2 separate regions of the Homo sapiens genome follow, and region 1 is linked to region 2. Evidence: fine-mapped QTL for protein levels in blood plasma. A gene starts in region 2. The other region holds a variant in brackets. All regions are shown on one strand. Distances are from middle to middle. Region 1 overlaps PDIA5 (protein disulfide isomerase family A member 5). Region 2 holds the start of PDIA5 (protein disulfide isomerase family A member 5).

Evidence for each region. PIP is the chance, under the fine-mapping model, that this variant and not a neighbour inherited with it causes the effect. Protein levels are from antibody-based Olink assays in UK Biobank. Linkage for the fine-mapping came from a reference panel and not from the study's own genotypes, which makes the PIPs less certain.
Region 1: its variant is fine-mapped to the plasma level of the PDIA5 protein (UK Biobank, PIP above 0.99).

What each region holds. Positions count from the first base shown.
Region 1 is chr3:123,112,527-123,115,427 of GRCh38, forward strand. All of the region lies in intron 7 of PDIA5 (protein disulfide isomerase family A member 5), which reads left to right. Among named protein-coding and RNA genes, the nearest start is that of PDIA5, 47 kb to the left of the region's middle. The variant C/T (reference allele first, on the strand shown) is at 1,630.
Region 2 is chr3:123,065,917-123,068,817 of GRCh38, forward strand. It overlaps PDIA5 (protein disulfide isomerase family A member 5), which reads left to right and starts at 1,109. Exons shown (of 17, transcript NM_006810.4): 1 at 1,109-1,290. The coding sequence starts at 1,249. RefSeq lists a silencer at 1,164-1,403.

The DNA of each region.
Region 1 (2,901 bases), 47 kb after region 2:
CCCTATTCTTTTTTTTTTTTTTTTTTTTTTTTTTGGTTTTGAGACAGAGCCTTGCTCTGTTGCCCAGGCTGGAGTGTGGTGGTACCATCTCAGCTCACTGCGACCTCCGCCCCCCGGGTTCAAATGGTTCAAATGATTCTCCTGCCTCAGCTTCCCGAGTAGCTGGGACTATAGGTGCCCGCCATGAGGCCTGGCTAATTTTTGTATATTTTTAGTAGAGATGGGGCTTCACCATGTTGCCCAGGCTGGTCTCAAACTCCTGACCTCAGGTGATCCACCCACCTCGGCCTCCCAAAGTGCTGGAATTACAGGTGTGAACCACCGTGCCCGGCCCCCCAAGCCCTGTTTTGATTGCTGGGTGTCCTCCAGCCCCAGCCTCCTCCCCAGGCCTCCTCGCTGGCCCCAGGGCTGTGCTTACCTTTGGGATGAGGCCCTGGTGTCTCACTTGCTGTAGATCCAGCTCTGCCCTGAATGGTAGCTACTTTAACCCTCGCTCCTTCTCTTTATTAATGTTCATTAGTTGGTTTCACCCCTTTTTGTTTCTTCTTGGAGGAATATTACTAACTACCCAGCTGTGAATTGCTTTAGGAATTATTCTGTCCACACAGCCCCTAGAGGATGGGCCTCCTTTGGTATATCTTAAAGCCCTTCAGGACTCAACACATTGGTTAAATGAAGCTGTAAAATGGAGTGTATATCAATATGCAGTGCGTGCCACAAGACGGCATCCGGGTGTAACCAGGCAGGTCTCAGTGTGATGCCATTAGTCATTTAGAAGTGTGCACGGGCAGTTTGCGCCCGTGTGCTGTGCCCTCTCCCGCCATGCACCCAGGCTGTGTGGCAGTGTGCCCATCCCATCCTTCACGACAGAGAGGTGAGCACAGTTATCATCTTTACAGAAGAGAAAGCTGGGGCAGGGGAAATTAGGTACCTCACAGAGTCACAAAGCTTATTGGTGGTAGGGGAGGGAGGAGAAAACTCGGAGGTTAAGTTCAACTTTTGGTGGAGGGTCAGATCGGTTGCACTCCTAGGTCCCAAGGAACCTCGGGACCCTTTTTTTGATTATGCACGTGTGTATGATTTTTTACAAAATGAAACAAACTTGTGCTTTTAGCACACTAGTCTAATCAAGTCTCCATGGCATCATAATTCAGCTGATTCCTGGGATACACAGCAGTTCCCTAACTGGGACGTCTGTTAGGACTCTGTGACCCTTTGGTCACATGTTGGGTGAATGGGCCCAAAGGCAGTGAGAACCTTTGGTGGTGACAAGGAACCTGGCTCCCCAGGATCTACCGCTTATTCAGGAAATGTTTGCTCACTGAATTAATAAGAAAATAAAAAGGCTGACTACTCTGACTTTTGAGGTTTGAGAATGATAATTAGTCTTACCTCTCCCCCTGCCTCCCAGTGGAATCAGCTGGAAGATAAACTCAGGAAGCACAGGGCCAGCCCTATTTTTGGTAAAGTTAAATTGGAAACTGGCTTGGCCTGTGGTTTCCTACTCCTCCTGCATCACCTCTCCCCAACCAATAACTTCTCCACCCAGCACCACTGGCCCTGCCCACAGGGACAACTGGCCGACTTATCCTCTGTTTCAGGGTGTTATTGCTGCAGGCTGCAAACAGG[C/T]GAAACAGGAAGAGAGAGGCCACACTGTGGAGACAGATAGTAAATAAAGTTCTTGATAGATGAATGTGGCCCAGTGGGGGTCAGACTGAAGTCACTGAGCGAAGAATGAGTGAAAGGCTGCAGGTGTCCCCCCTTATTTTCCCTCCTGGGGAGTGCAGCGACATCCTCTTCCCTCAGTGGAAGTGTTTCCCCCACCATGGACTGGGAAGCACCCCCCCAAATCCTGGCATTGGACTAAGATGTCTCTGCAGGCACTGAATGTTCCCCGGCTCTATCTAACACCTGCAGGGCACCTATCCCCACTGCACAGATAGGGAAGCCGAGGCTTGGAGAGCCCAGGCCACTTGCCCAAGATCACCCAGCCAGTGGGAGTTATGGGGAGATGCAGACCTCGGTCTCAGCCTTGTTCTTCCCAGAGCTGAGCTCCTTCCTCTGCGCCATCTGCAGCCTCCTGTTTTCCACCCGGTGCATTTCCCCCTGAGCGTTGTTCCTGCTTCTGTTCTCCTCTTTCTGAATCCCCACAATGGAAACAATGCCCCTGACAAGTGTCATATTCCTTCCTTCATGCCACTGATGGTGTTCGCACTGAGGTGGCAGGTCCTGAGGAGAGGTGCCTCTTATCTTCTGAGGGCAGATTCGGCGGGCTCGCGCTGCAGGCTGGCCTCGAAACAGCTCCTTTTCTCCTGCCAGGACTGATGGCAGAACTTAAGCCCAGGGTTCGCGTACTGGGGTGTGTGTGAGTCCATCTGTCAGACAGGAATGTCAGGAGGGGGCTGTGGGGCAGTTTTGGAGCCTCATGGCCAAATGTCCTGTGTCTGCATCTTGTCCGGTAGGCTTGGTGCTGGGGAGGTTCTGGTGGCCCAGAAGGAATGTTGGCCTTCTGGCTTCACGGCCTGTCTAGGCGTCAGCTAAGCATGGATTGGAGCTGGGCTGCCTGTCGCCACATGGACCCTGTGCCCGCTGTGCCAAGCTGAGATCAGCCTGACACATGGTTCCAGGCAGCTTTGGTTCTGTGCTCTTCAGATGCATCTTAAGCCCTGTTTTGTAGCAGAGAGGCAGTCGGAAAGGGTAATAGCCTGGCACTTCAGAATCCCTGCTGTCTGAGGAAACTGCTCATGTCCTGTGGGATCAGTGCTGAAATGTGGTCTGCTCTGGTTTAAGGGAAGGAGTTTAAGGTCACTCTAAAGTTTTAGTGGATGTTTGGGACCTGGCCTTCCTGGTCGCTTGAGTCCAGGAGTTCAAGGCCCCCTATCAAGGCTGTGGGTCTTCACC
Region 2 (2,901 bases):
TGTAATCACATCATATGTGACTTTTTGTGTCTGGCTTCTTTCATTAGCATACATTTCTGAGATTCATTCATTGTAGAATGTATTAGCATTTTATTCTCTCCCCCCCACCTTTTTTTTTTTTTTTTTTTTTGAGACAGGGTCTCACCCTGTGGCCTAGGCTGGGGTGCAGTGGCATGATCTTGGCTCACTGCAGTCTCCATATCCCAGGTTCAAGCAATCCTCCCGCCTTAGCCTCCCAAGTAGTTGGAACTACAGTCCCTTGCCACCACACCAGCTATTTTATTTTATTTTATTTTTATTTTTAGCAGAGATGAGGTCTTGCTATGTTGCCCAGGCTGGTTTCAAACTCCTAGTCTTACACGATTCTGCTGCCTCAGCTTTCCAAAGTGTTGGGATTACAGTCATGAGCTGCCCTGCTGGGCCACTTTATTCCTTTTAATGGCTAAATAACATTCCATTAGATGGATGTATCACACTTTGTTTACCCATTCATCCTTTGACAGACGTTAGAGTTGTTTCTACCTTTTGGTTATTGTAAATAGTGTTGCTGTGAACACTGGTGTACGTGCATTTGTCTGAATACCTGTTTTCAATTCTTTTGGGTATTAGCCTAAGGGTGGAATTGCTGGTCATATAGTAATCTATGTTTAACTTTTTGAGGAACCACCAGATTGTTTTCCAACAGCTCAATAATGTTTTACTGAAGTTAAATAGAATAAGCAGGAGGGAGTCTGGGAGGCAGGGATGAGGGCTTTTCCTGTCCTTCACAGGCAGCCCTGGACTCTGCCATTTACCGGCTGTGTGATCTGGATCAACGTACTTAAATTCCCTGCGCTGCCTCCTAATCCTCAAAGTGGAGAAAATAAAACCTAATTTCTGTGAGCTGCGTGAGATACTGTTTCTGAAGCTCCAGGCACAGAGTAAGCCCCCGCTCATTAATTGCCTTCCCTTACTCCCTGACCTTGCCTTTTCGCACTTCACTCGCTGCCACGTGGCCTCGGAGCCCAGTCCGCACCCGCAGCCCCCAGCTGAGCCAGGCTGCAGACTACAACTCCCAGCGAGCACTTCTTCCCGGCCGCCTCTCCCCAGCTGCTGCGCATGCTTTGGCAGACGTGGCACCGGGAACTCGGAGGCGGGGAGCGGCTGGGAAGTGGCCGTGGTGGTTGGCCGCGGTGGAGCTAGCAGGCGGGCGGGCGGGAGCGGGCGCCGGAGTGGAGAAAGGAGCCAGCGGTGGGCAGCGCTGCTGGGATGGCGCGGGCCGGGCCGGCGTGGCTGCTGCTGGCAATCTGGGTGAGACTGTGGGGCAGGGATCCGGGCCGGGCCAGCACGTGTGTCCCGCGTGCCCTTCTGCGCTCTCTGCTCCAGCCCTCTGCGGAACGTGCGGGGAGCTGCCCCGGGGCACCGGGATGAGGGCGTGCATGCCAGGCAGGCGGGCACTGGGTGCTACGCGGGAGACAGCGGGCGTCCCGGTGCCCTCGCCGCCAAGCGCTCCCGGACGCAGGGGCAGGAGGCAGCTGTGGGGCGCCGGGAGATCCCTGGCAGGGTGCTTACGCCACGGCCACAACTTTGCGGGGATGCAGGTCGGGGCACAGCCGGTCGGGCAGGACGCCGGCGGGCTGCGGGGTGAGCTCCGCTCCAGACTCCGAGCCCTGCACCTGTGTGAGTGCGGGGTGGGATGGGGGTGCTTACTACCTGCACTGCCGGAAACCTTGGTTTAGGGCCACCTTGTTCTTGGCTTCGGCCCCAGGCGTCTGGGAAACTGCGGGCCACCACCTGGGCCTCCGCCCACAGGCCAGGCTCGGTGGGCTGGGTGGGGTCGACGTAGCCCGCCCCGGCGGAGGAGCTGCTCCTACACCCAACTGAGGCGGGCTCGAGCCTCAGCCACTTTCTAGCTGTGTGACGCGGCGGTTCATTTAATGTATCTGAGCTAGTTTCCTCATGCATGATATAGAAAGGCAAAGCTACCCCCATAGGGTGGTTCTGAGAGTCGGATGAGGTCTCAGTGGAGGAAGCTGTGTAAACTGCAAAATCTTACAAAAGTGGAAAAGGAGTGGACTCCAAGAGTAGTTTGCTACACTTGGTGGGGGGGACTCCAGGCATCCCTGAGAGAGGTCGGAATGGGTGTGCCTGCCGGCCCAGGTCTGGGGTTTGGCCTTCGTTTCGCTGTGGGTGTGTGATGAGATATTGTGGCCTCCTTCCCCATCTTTTCCATAACTTATGCGCTCCCTTATTTTAGGACCATCCTGGTCCTTTTCCCCTGAAGTTCCAGGGAACTTCCTGTTCCTGGCACCCTCCCCCCAACCCAGATTTTCCCGTTCTTTTCCATTTGGGTGTGGCAAGGACACTGGGCAAATGGGAGGAGAAAAGTGTGGGTTGAGTTGCTTGAAACACTTCCATCTCCCAATACCCTGGCCTTTTGGATCACCAGTGAGGAGTGGCCTGGTACTCTCTGGTTGGAAGTGGGTGGGGAAAGAAGCCCCCTGTTCTCTTCGGTCTGTGTTCTCCCTCTTGGGGAGAACCAGGCTGGAGTGGGGCAGTGTCACTTAATTGCGTCTGGGTTTGTTGAATGCTGGTTTGCCATCAGTTCCCTGGAGCCAGTTGGTCTGGGCGGGTCTCTGGGCCAGGAGGAGGGAGCTATCTCCTGAAACGCCCCCCATCGGTCTTTGCACTTGGGCTGAGTAGGAGGTCCTGCTTTCCTCCCTTTCCCCTCCCTTTTGTGAAAACAAACGGCTTGAGAATCTGAAATTTCATTCGGCAGACATTTATTTGTCAATCACATTGTTTGGATTGATATTTTGCCCTCCACTGGGTTAGATTTTGGGCGGAGAGCAAAACACACATTGTACCTGCCGTCTGGTGTTGCCCTGGATTGGGCAAAGGAGTCAGTCCTGTGAGCAAATA